Linked DNA regions of Homo sapiens: all the other regions are linked to region 3. Evidence: fine-mapped expression QTL. A gene starts in region 3. Each other region holds a variant in brackets. All regions are shown on one strand. Distances are between the middles of the regions.

The links.
Region 1: its variant is fine-mapped to the expression of ZNF319 in whole blood (TOPMed, PIP above 0.99).
Region 2: its variant is fine-mapped to the expression of ZNF319 in whole blood (INTERVAL, PIP 0.97).

The regions. Positions count from the first base shown.
Region 1 is chr16:57,892,712-57,895,211 of GRCh38, forward strand. All of the region lies in intron 31 of CNGB1 (cyclic nucleotide gated channel subunit beta 1), which reads right to left. Among named protein-coding and RNA genes, the nearest start is that of CNGB1, 77 kb to the right of the region's middle. The variant G/A (reference allele first, on the strand shown) is at 1,514.
Region 2 is chr16:58,028,636-58,031,442 of GRCh38, forward strand. The region is part of intron 1 of MMP15 (matrix metallopeptidase 15); the gene reads left to right. Among named protein-coding and RNA genes, the nearest start is that of MMP15, 4.3 kb to the left of the region's middle. The variant G/T (reference allele first, on the strand shown) is at 974.
Region 3 is chr16:57,999,148-58,001,988 of GRCh38, forward strand. It overlaps ZNF319 (zinc finger protein 319), which reads right to left and starts at 1,525. Exons shown (of 2, transcript NM_020807.3): 1 at 346-1,525. USB1 (U6 snRNA biogenesis phosphodiesterase 1) reads left to right here and starts at 2,260. Exons shown (of 7, transcript NM_024598.4): 1 at 2,260-2,434. The coding sequence starts at 2,337. RefSeq lists enhancers at 609-878, 1,736-1,905, 2,078-2,372, 2,399-2,498 and silencers at 999-1,128, 1,179-1,778, 2,069-2,318.

The DNA of each region.
Region 1 (2,500 bases), 110 kb before region 3:
TGTTGTGCCACCCACACACTAAGCCTGCTCCTCCCCAGGGCCTCTGCACATGCTGTTCCCTCTTCCCAGAATGCTGTACCCAGCCATCAGTCCCCCAGCTCACTCCTTTGCTTTGTGCAGGTCTCGTTGAAATGCCACCTGCTCAGAGCAGCTTCCCCAACCAGCTTATCTCAGACAGCTCTCCGTCACTTCCCGCTCCTCCCGTGGCTTTGTGTTTCCTCGTAGCCAGACGCATCACATCATCGCTCATCTTTCCATTGCCGGTTCCCTGACTAGAATGTGAGTTTTGTTTGGTCCCTCCTGTGTCCCCAGAACTCAGCACTGTGTACTCGATACATCACTGTGCTGTAGGAATGGATGCTGGTGAGTTTCTTCCCTCTATTATGACAGCTCTCTGTGCAGTTTATTTATGGTGTCATTGTATAGAATGAAGGGGAAAATAAGAATGTGTGATACAAGACAAGGAGGAAAACCCAGATATGTGGATTAAAAAGGTTTTACCCAACTGAAAAATTATAGGGTGAATTTGATGGCTACAGAGGAACAATTGCTTATTTATCTGAGAGACAGGGTCTTGCTCTGTCACCCAGGCTGGAGTGCAGTGGCACGATCATAACTCACTGTAACCTTAAATATTTGGGCTGAAATGATCCTCCCGCCTCAGCCTCCTAAAGTGCTGGGATTACAATCATGCAGCATTGCGCCCGGCCTGAAGTGATCCTTATTAACATGCACTGAGCTCTCTTGTATGACAGGCACCCCACCGGAGACATTCCTGCACACTATTTAATTTTCACAGCAGCAGGCCAGGCACAGTGGCTCACACCTGTAATCCCAGCACTTTGGGAGGCCAAGGCGGGCAGATCGCCTGAGGTCAGAAGTCCCAGACCAGCCTGGTCAACATGGTGAAACCCCGTCTCTACTTAAAATACAAAAATTAGCCGGGTGTGGTGGCATGTGCCTGCAGTAGTCCCAGCTATTGGGGTGGCTGAGGCAGGAGAATCGAATTGTTTGAACCCAGGAGGCAGAGGTTACAGTGAGCCAGGATTGCGCCACTGCACTCCAGCCTTGGCGACAAAGCAAGACTCCATCTCAAAAAAACAAAAAAAATTTACAGCAGCAAAGTAGGGGTTATGACCTTTATTTTACATAGGAGACAACTGAGACCAGAAAAGTTAAACAACTTCCTCAAAGTCACACAGCCAGCACCTCACATGGAAGGGATCTGAGCCCCGCCAGCCTCCCAGACCTATTGTGGGGTTCCTGACACACTACGTTGCCTGTCGCTCAATTTGAAACCTGATCTTAAGGGTTTGAAAACAAAAACCGGCTTTTCTAAAAAGAATGACCTGTTCCCCAACAATGCAAAATACGGATGCACACGGTTATTCGTTGCACCACTGTTTGTAATTGCAAAATTGTGGAAATACCCTAAATGTCCATTTACAGGAATGTTCTGCCACTGTGGAAAGGAATGAGGAAGCTGACTCTGCACTGATAGACAATGATTTCC[G/A]GGTTTTGTCGTCATGTGGAAACAAAGCAAAGTACAAGAATCTACAGCATGCCATATTTTGTGTAAGAAAGAAGAAGAAATAAGAAAATGTTTGGGCTGGGTGTGGTGGCTCACACCTGTAATCCCAGAATTTTGGGAGGCAGAAGCGGGCAGATCACCTGAGGTGAGAAGTTCGAGACAAGCCTGGCCAACGTGGCAAAGCCCCATCTCTACTAAAAATACAAAAATTAGCTGGGAATGGTGGCAGATGCCTGTAATCCCAGCTACTCAGGAGGCTGAGGCAGGAGAATCACCTGAACCCGGGAGGTGGAGGTTGCAGTGAGCCAAGACCTAACCACTGCACTCCAGCCCAGGCTACAGAATGAGACTTCATCTCAAAAAAGAAAAAAAGAAAATGTCTGTGGACTTGTCCATTTTCGCAAAAGTAAGCAGAGGAAAGAAAAGGCAGAAATTGATGCAACGAGCCACGTAATAATGGGAGTTGCAGTCAGGGGGCAATGGGGACAGGGAGAGTTGGGACGCTTTTCTGAGTGCCCCATTTTGCAGAGTGTTGACCTTCAGGAACATGTTAATGTTCTACATACTGAAAACAAGAAAAAGTCAACAAAGATCAGGGTGGCAGGAGCCCTAAATGGAATGTAAACTGAAACAAGTGAACCTACCTGTATTTCAAATGAATAAAGTAACCACATTAAAGGGTAGTGGAGGAAGAGAACGACTCCAGATAACTTTGAACGTAACACTTCCATCATATATACTCGGGCTAAACACAAAAGAACTGCATCCAGTACTGAACTCTACCTAGAAGCCTTACTTTTTGTTTTTACAGTGACATGGGCTGGAAATTCTGAAATGAACTTCCCTGTATTGCTCAGTGTTGGAGAAGAGATTTACAAGTATGAAAAGGGAGAATATTAGAATGAATTCTAATATGTGGTGGCAGGGCACGGTGGCTCACACCTGTAATCCCAGCAACTCTGGGAAGCC
Region 2 (2,807 bases), 29 kb after region 3:
GCATCCACACAGCCTCAGGCCTCCAGTAGGGTCACAGCTGGGACCTTCTCGGAGCAGCTTGGCAGCTGAGCCAAGGCCAGCCTCTCTCCACTTCCTCTCTCCCCTCCCAGGGTGGAAGCCACAGGACTTTCACGAGGCTGAGACATCAAGGAGCCTGGCATGTGCTAGGAACTGACAAACACCTGCAACCTGCCAGGCCCTAGCCCACCACTGAGCTGCCACGTCCTATCCCACATTCTCCCTTGGATGTCCAATCCCAGTCTGTAGCCATTCCGGGCCAGATCCCCACCTGGCTGAGGTGCTCACTGTTGTTCCTGCCCTGCAGGGCTGAGAGTCTCCAGGCTCACCGGGGGAGCTCTTATCTCACCTGCCTCCCCCTACCCCCTCCTCCCAGGCACAATTCAGGTCCTCAGCCTGCTCTGTGGAGGTGACTCAGGCTGCCAGAGTTCACAGGGGTGGTGCCACCACCACCAAAACCGATCCACCCGCCTTTCCTCAACAGGCCCACGAGTATCTTCCTAGCCCCTACCCAGCCACTGAGTAGATGAGGCAGCGGGGGTGGGGGCGTTGGGAGGGGGTCAGCGTGAATTACCATTTTGACCTTCAGGTGAGCCACAGTCTTGGGCTTCCTTAGCTTCAGTCTCTACTAGCACTTCCATGCTGGCTCCGGGGGGGCCCCACTGGTCCCCTCTTTCTTTTAAACAGAGCAAAACTACAGATGCCATCTGTGCCCACCAGCTAAGAAAAGGGAGTTAATAGCGGGGCCTTGTCATTGGGAATCTGCAGAAGCTGAATCTTCTCCCCCTCCCCTCTTGTCTCTGCTTTTTACTCTGTTTTCTTGCTAGTAGTAAATCACTCCTCTCCATGCTCTGTCAAGACCCAGAGAGAACTGGTCTGATTGGCACAGCCAGGGACCTAGATCTCATTGGGCCATGCCCTTCACACCCAGCCCTTGCCATGTTTCCGAGTTGGG[G/T]CTGCCCTTGGGTCCAGCCAGTCATCTGTCTCCTTGCAGAGAACAGCCCAGTGTAAGCTCCTTGTCTGAGCAGTGTATTGGCCTGACCTTCCCATTGTGACCTCTGAACATAAATACCTCCTTTGCCCCACCCCAAGGGATGTTGATACTTAAAAGATATCCATGAATGTGGAGAGGAGCAACATGGAAATACACGCTATCCCCACCCCCAAAAGAAGACTTTCCCCAAAAGCCCAGTGCCCACTGCTATCTCTTATGCCCATTCAGGATGGCTACACTGCAGGCGTGGAAAAGCCCCTCCCTGCCGAGCGGTTTGTTCTGCTGTCCCTCTGTGGCCCTTTTGTTGTTTGGTCCAGATGATCCCTTCCATCATCACCTCTGCCCTGCTGGGAGTTTGACCTCTGCCTCAGGCTAGCTGTGGTGGTCACTATGAGAACCACTACTTTCCAGATCAAATCAGAATGGGTATCCTCCATATCATCCCAAGGCTTAGGTGGCTCCCTGTCTTGGACACTCCAGCAGGAGCAATGCTTTGGTCCTGGAGATGTGTTTTCTGAGTCAGCAAAGACAGAGAGGGGTTGTGGACTCTGCCCTTATCTTTCTCCTTTACAAAGCGGGTCCTGGGAGAAGCCCACCATTGAGTGTGAGGACCGGGACCCTGAAGGCGGCTGAATGCTCCAGACCTGAGACACAGTAGGCACCATCTGGCTGGACAGCTCTGAGTGACGGCTCAGATAGGGCTGCTCCACAGTCAGACACAGGTTCCAGGGATTCCTGAGACCAGAGGCCATGGAGCTGGGCCTGGATCCCAGAGGCAAAGAGGGATGCCTCTTCCCTAATCCCATGGCCCTCGTGGGAATGGAAGAAAAAGTGGGAAGAGACCCAACTCAGCCTCCAGTATCAGGACAGGTGGATAAGCCCCTGGTACCAGCCATTAGCCAGCCCCTGGAGATGCCCCCCATCCTGCTGCCATCGGCCGATGGTGATGCAGGCCAAGGTCTAGATCACCTCTCCAGGGCACTGGCACTGGCACTGCCTTGTCCTTCCCCTAGGAGTGACTGTCACCCTGTAGGGGTGAGAGTCCAGCTCCACGTTCAGCGTTTCTGAGCATGGCACTTGATACATAGTGCACAACACGGTGGCCTACACCCTGTGTCCAGAGCCTCCCTGGCAAAATAGTGCAAAACAGTGACAGAAGCGAATGGCATTTACTGTTGGGCAAGTCACTGAATCTGTATGAACTTCAAGATCTCTATAAAAAGGGAATAGCAATGGTCTATCTGCTTGATGGAGTTACGGGGAGATTCATTGCATTTATGTGCAAAACACTAAACGCTATGCACAATGCCTGGCACAGGGGGCCTAAGGAGGCGCAGGTGTTATTTTTGAGCACCTTCAACATACTTGTGTCTGTTGTGGACACAGACTAGGGATGTTTTGTAAGCGTTTTCACATTTAATCCTTGTATTAACTCTTCAAGTGTAGATGCTGTCATTACTCAATCTACAAAAGAGGAAACTAATACTGTGAGTTGAGAGAAATGACCCCCGCATTCCATAGCCAGGGAGTGGCAGAGCTTGGATTTGAACCCAGCTCAGTCTGGCCTGGAGCCCAAGTTCCCAACCCCCATGCGGGGTTGAAGGCTACAGGTCAGAGCCTAGGGTGCCATCCTGTGGAAATTCCACCAGGCAGAATTCTGCTGGGCCCGATCCAGGTGGGAAAGAGGTTTCTGAGGTGGAGCCAGGGCTGCCTGAGCTGTGTGAGCCAAAAGCCCTCCCCCGGCCCACCCAGCCTTGCCCCCATCTGTCCAGCCACCCAAGCTCTGCCCTGTGGA
Region 3 (2,841 bases):
AGGTGATGGGGGCTAGATGAGAGGGCCACAGAACCACCCAGGCTTGATGTCCACACAGCAGAACTTCCTCACTCTGGTTCTCTCCCAGAACTCACACACACACACACACACACACACACACACACAAAGTCCTAAATCCTCTGAATCTCATAGTGTCAAGGCCTGCAGGAAAATGTAAGAAACTGCCCTGGTCTGCCTTGGCAATGCAGGATGCAGCATGCTAACCACAGAGCATTTCTCATCACCTCTCTAGAGACAACTCCATTCCCTTACTCCAAGCCTATAAAGTTCTGGGTAATTGTTGGAAGGTAAAGCCCACCCAGCCCAGGCAAATCTCTAACTCACCACTTTGTGGCAGCATGAGGTAATGCCAGCGAGAGGGAGGAACTTTCAGAGTCAGATGCAACCCACTTCCAGGTTCCCAGCTCATCTGCCTCTTACATTTAAAAGTTTGTAAGTTTTCTCCTGAGCAGAGGAAGAAGGAAGGAGAAGCCTTCACAGGACAGTCTGGCCTCTAACTGCTCTGCCAAAGAAATGTAAGAGTCAGGCTAAAAGCTGTCATCCTCAGCATCTTCCGGAAGGGAGGGAGGAGAGGAGCGGCTGCTCTGGGTGGAGGCAGCAGGTTGCTTGAGCAAGCAGGTACCACTCTAAGCCTTCTCGGGACAGAGAGGGGGAAGGTGGGCTTCTCTGAGCGCCTGTAGGTCCGCTGTGCCAACCCACTGTTTTGTTTGCTTTTTCTGGCATGAATGGCTGTCAGACAGTGTCCCCTGGCTTGGTCTGCAGCACCCCCTGCCCACCCTGGCCCTCCTGCAGCAAGGTGCAGCCAGGAAGCCTCTGTGATCACTCCGCAAAGGGGAGAGAGGAGGCAAGGAGAGGCAGGGGAGGCCCCCCACCTGCGCCCCACCCCGTCTCTTCTTCCTCCCTGAGAAACCGAATGAAAGCCGATCACCTCCCGCCGGCCCTGCCTGCAGGCCCAGCTGGGCTGCGTCCTGTCAGCCCTCGTCCGGGATGGCCCGGCCGCTGCGACCCGAGGGCGAGCCCCGAGGGCGGCCGGGCTGGAGAAAGGCCCCAGGGCTACAGGCCGGGCCCAGGAAGCGGCTGCGCCTCGAGGCCCGGCCTGGGCCGCCCAGAAGCTCAAGAGGCCGCTAGGTCGCGGCGGAGGGGCGCGGGGGGGCGGCCGGGCCGGCAGAGGAAGGGGTGCGGCGGGCGCGGGGGTGGCCCCCAGATGCGGCCCCGGGCGCCCCGCCGCTCACCTGCTCCAGGCCGCCTGCAGGGCAGGCGCGGGGCGAGCGGCGACCAGCTGCTCTCTCGGCCGCCCCTTTATTCCGGCTCCATCCGCGGCGGCGCGGCCTACGCGCGCTGCCAATCCCCGGCCTCGCGTAGCGGCTGCGGCCGGACCGGGGGCGGGGGACGGGCTAGCGGCGGCCGGAACGGAGGAAGCGACGCGCGCTGCCGGAGTAGCGGGGCCGGGGCGAGGAGCGCCGGGAGGGCGGGCGGACGGACCGATGGCCTTGCGGAGACGGGCGGACGGGCGGGCGGCGCGGGGGCCAGGGAGGCGGGGCCGGGGGAGGAGCGGCATCCCGGGCGGCGGCGGCCAATGCGGGAGGAGCGGGCGGCGCGGAGCGAGGCCGCCCCCTGCCGGGGACCCCGTGGCCGGGCCAGGTCGGACAAGCCGGGTGCTCCGGGCGGTTTTCGAGTCGCCAGGCCTGGGCGCCTCGACTAACCGAGGAAGGGCGCTCTGCTTCCGGCCACCCCGCTCGGGCTTAGGGGAGGGGGCTCCGGGTGACCGCCCTCGGCCCGGCTCTGCGCAGGAGAGGAGGGGCCTCCTAGAGGCTCTGGTCTGCCACAATTGATCCGCCCCTAACTGCTCAGCTTGGCTTTTAGGGGCTTGGACTTTGGGCTGGTTTGAGGAGGGGGCTCCAGGACCTCTGATCCTGGCCGGGCTCGGGGCAGGCAGGGGTCTCCGCTGGGTCTAGTGCGCTGACCCGGGACTGTCGTGTCTGGTATGTCTGGTCCCGGGTGGCTGCAGACAGCAGCGGGCAGAAAGGTGAGGGCCCTGAGCGATATATGAAATGGGTACACGAAGGCTGGGGAGGTCCCAGCGGGGTGCCGGGAGGCTGCAGGTGACCAGATCCGCGTGCGCAGCCGGCAGACAGCTTGGAGTCGGTGGGCTGAATCTTCACCACTGTCCTGCCGGGTTCCGCCCCTCCCGGCTCCGCCCCGAGGCGGTGCCAGCCCAGGCCCCGCCCCTGGGAGGGCGCTTCCGGCACAGCGGAACTCCGGGTGCCGGTTGAGGTTGCTGGTGGACCTGCTCTGGTGGTCTTGGATGAGGCCCCATGAGCGCGGCGCCCCTGGTGGGCTACAGCAGCAGCGGCTCCGAGGATGAGTCCGAGGACGGGATGCGGACCAGGCCGGGGGATGGGAGCCACCGTCGGTGAGGAGTGAGGAAGTCTCTCCGGAGGGCGCGCGCATTCACCCTAGAGCCAGACGGGACCCGAATGTCTGGGGGTGGAGTGGGGAGGGAGGATGCGGGGCGGCTCTGGGAAGGAAAAGGGGACGCAGGAAGAAAGGAGGATCCAGAAGATATACCCCTCCCCCCCACCCCAGACAAAGCTCCAGAGTGGCCCCACCTGGCTAGGGCCAAGTTGGGAGGCCAGACCTGGGTTCGGGTCCAGCCTCGCGCTGGCCCACTCTATCGCCTGGCACACATCCCTGTACCATCCTAGGTCCGTTTCCTGATTTGAATACAATTGCGATAGTAATACTTGCTAAAGCGTAGGGAGAGCCTTTTCATTCATCCAGTAAATATTCACTGAGCACCCACTCCCTGCCAGGCTGGGG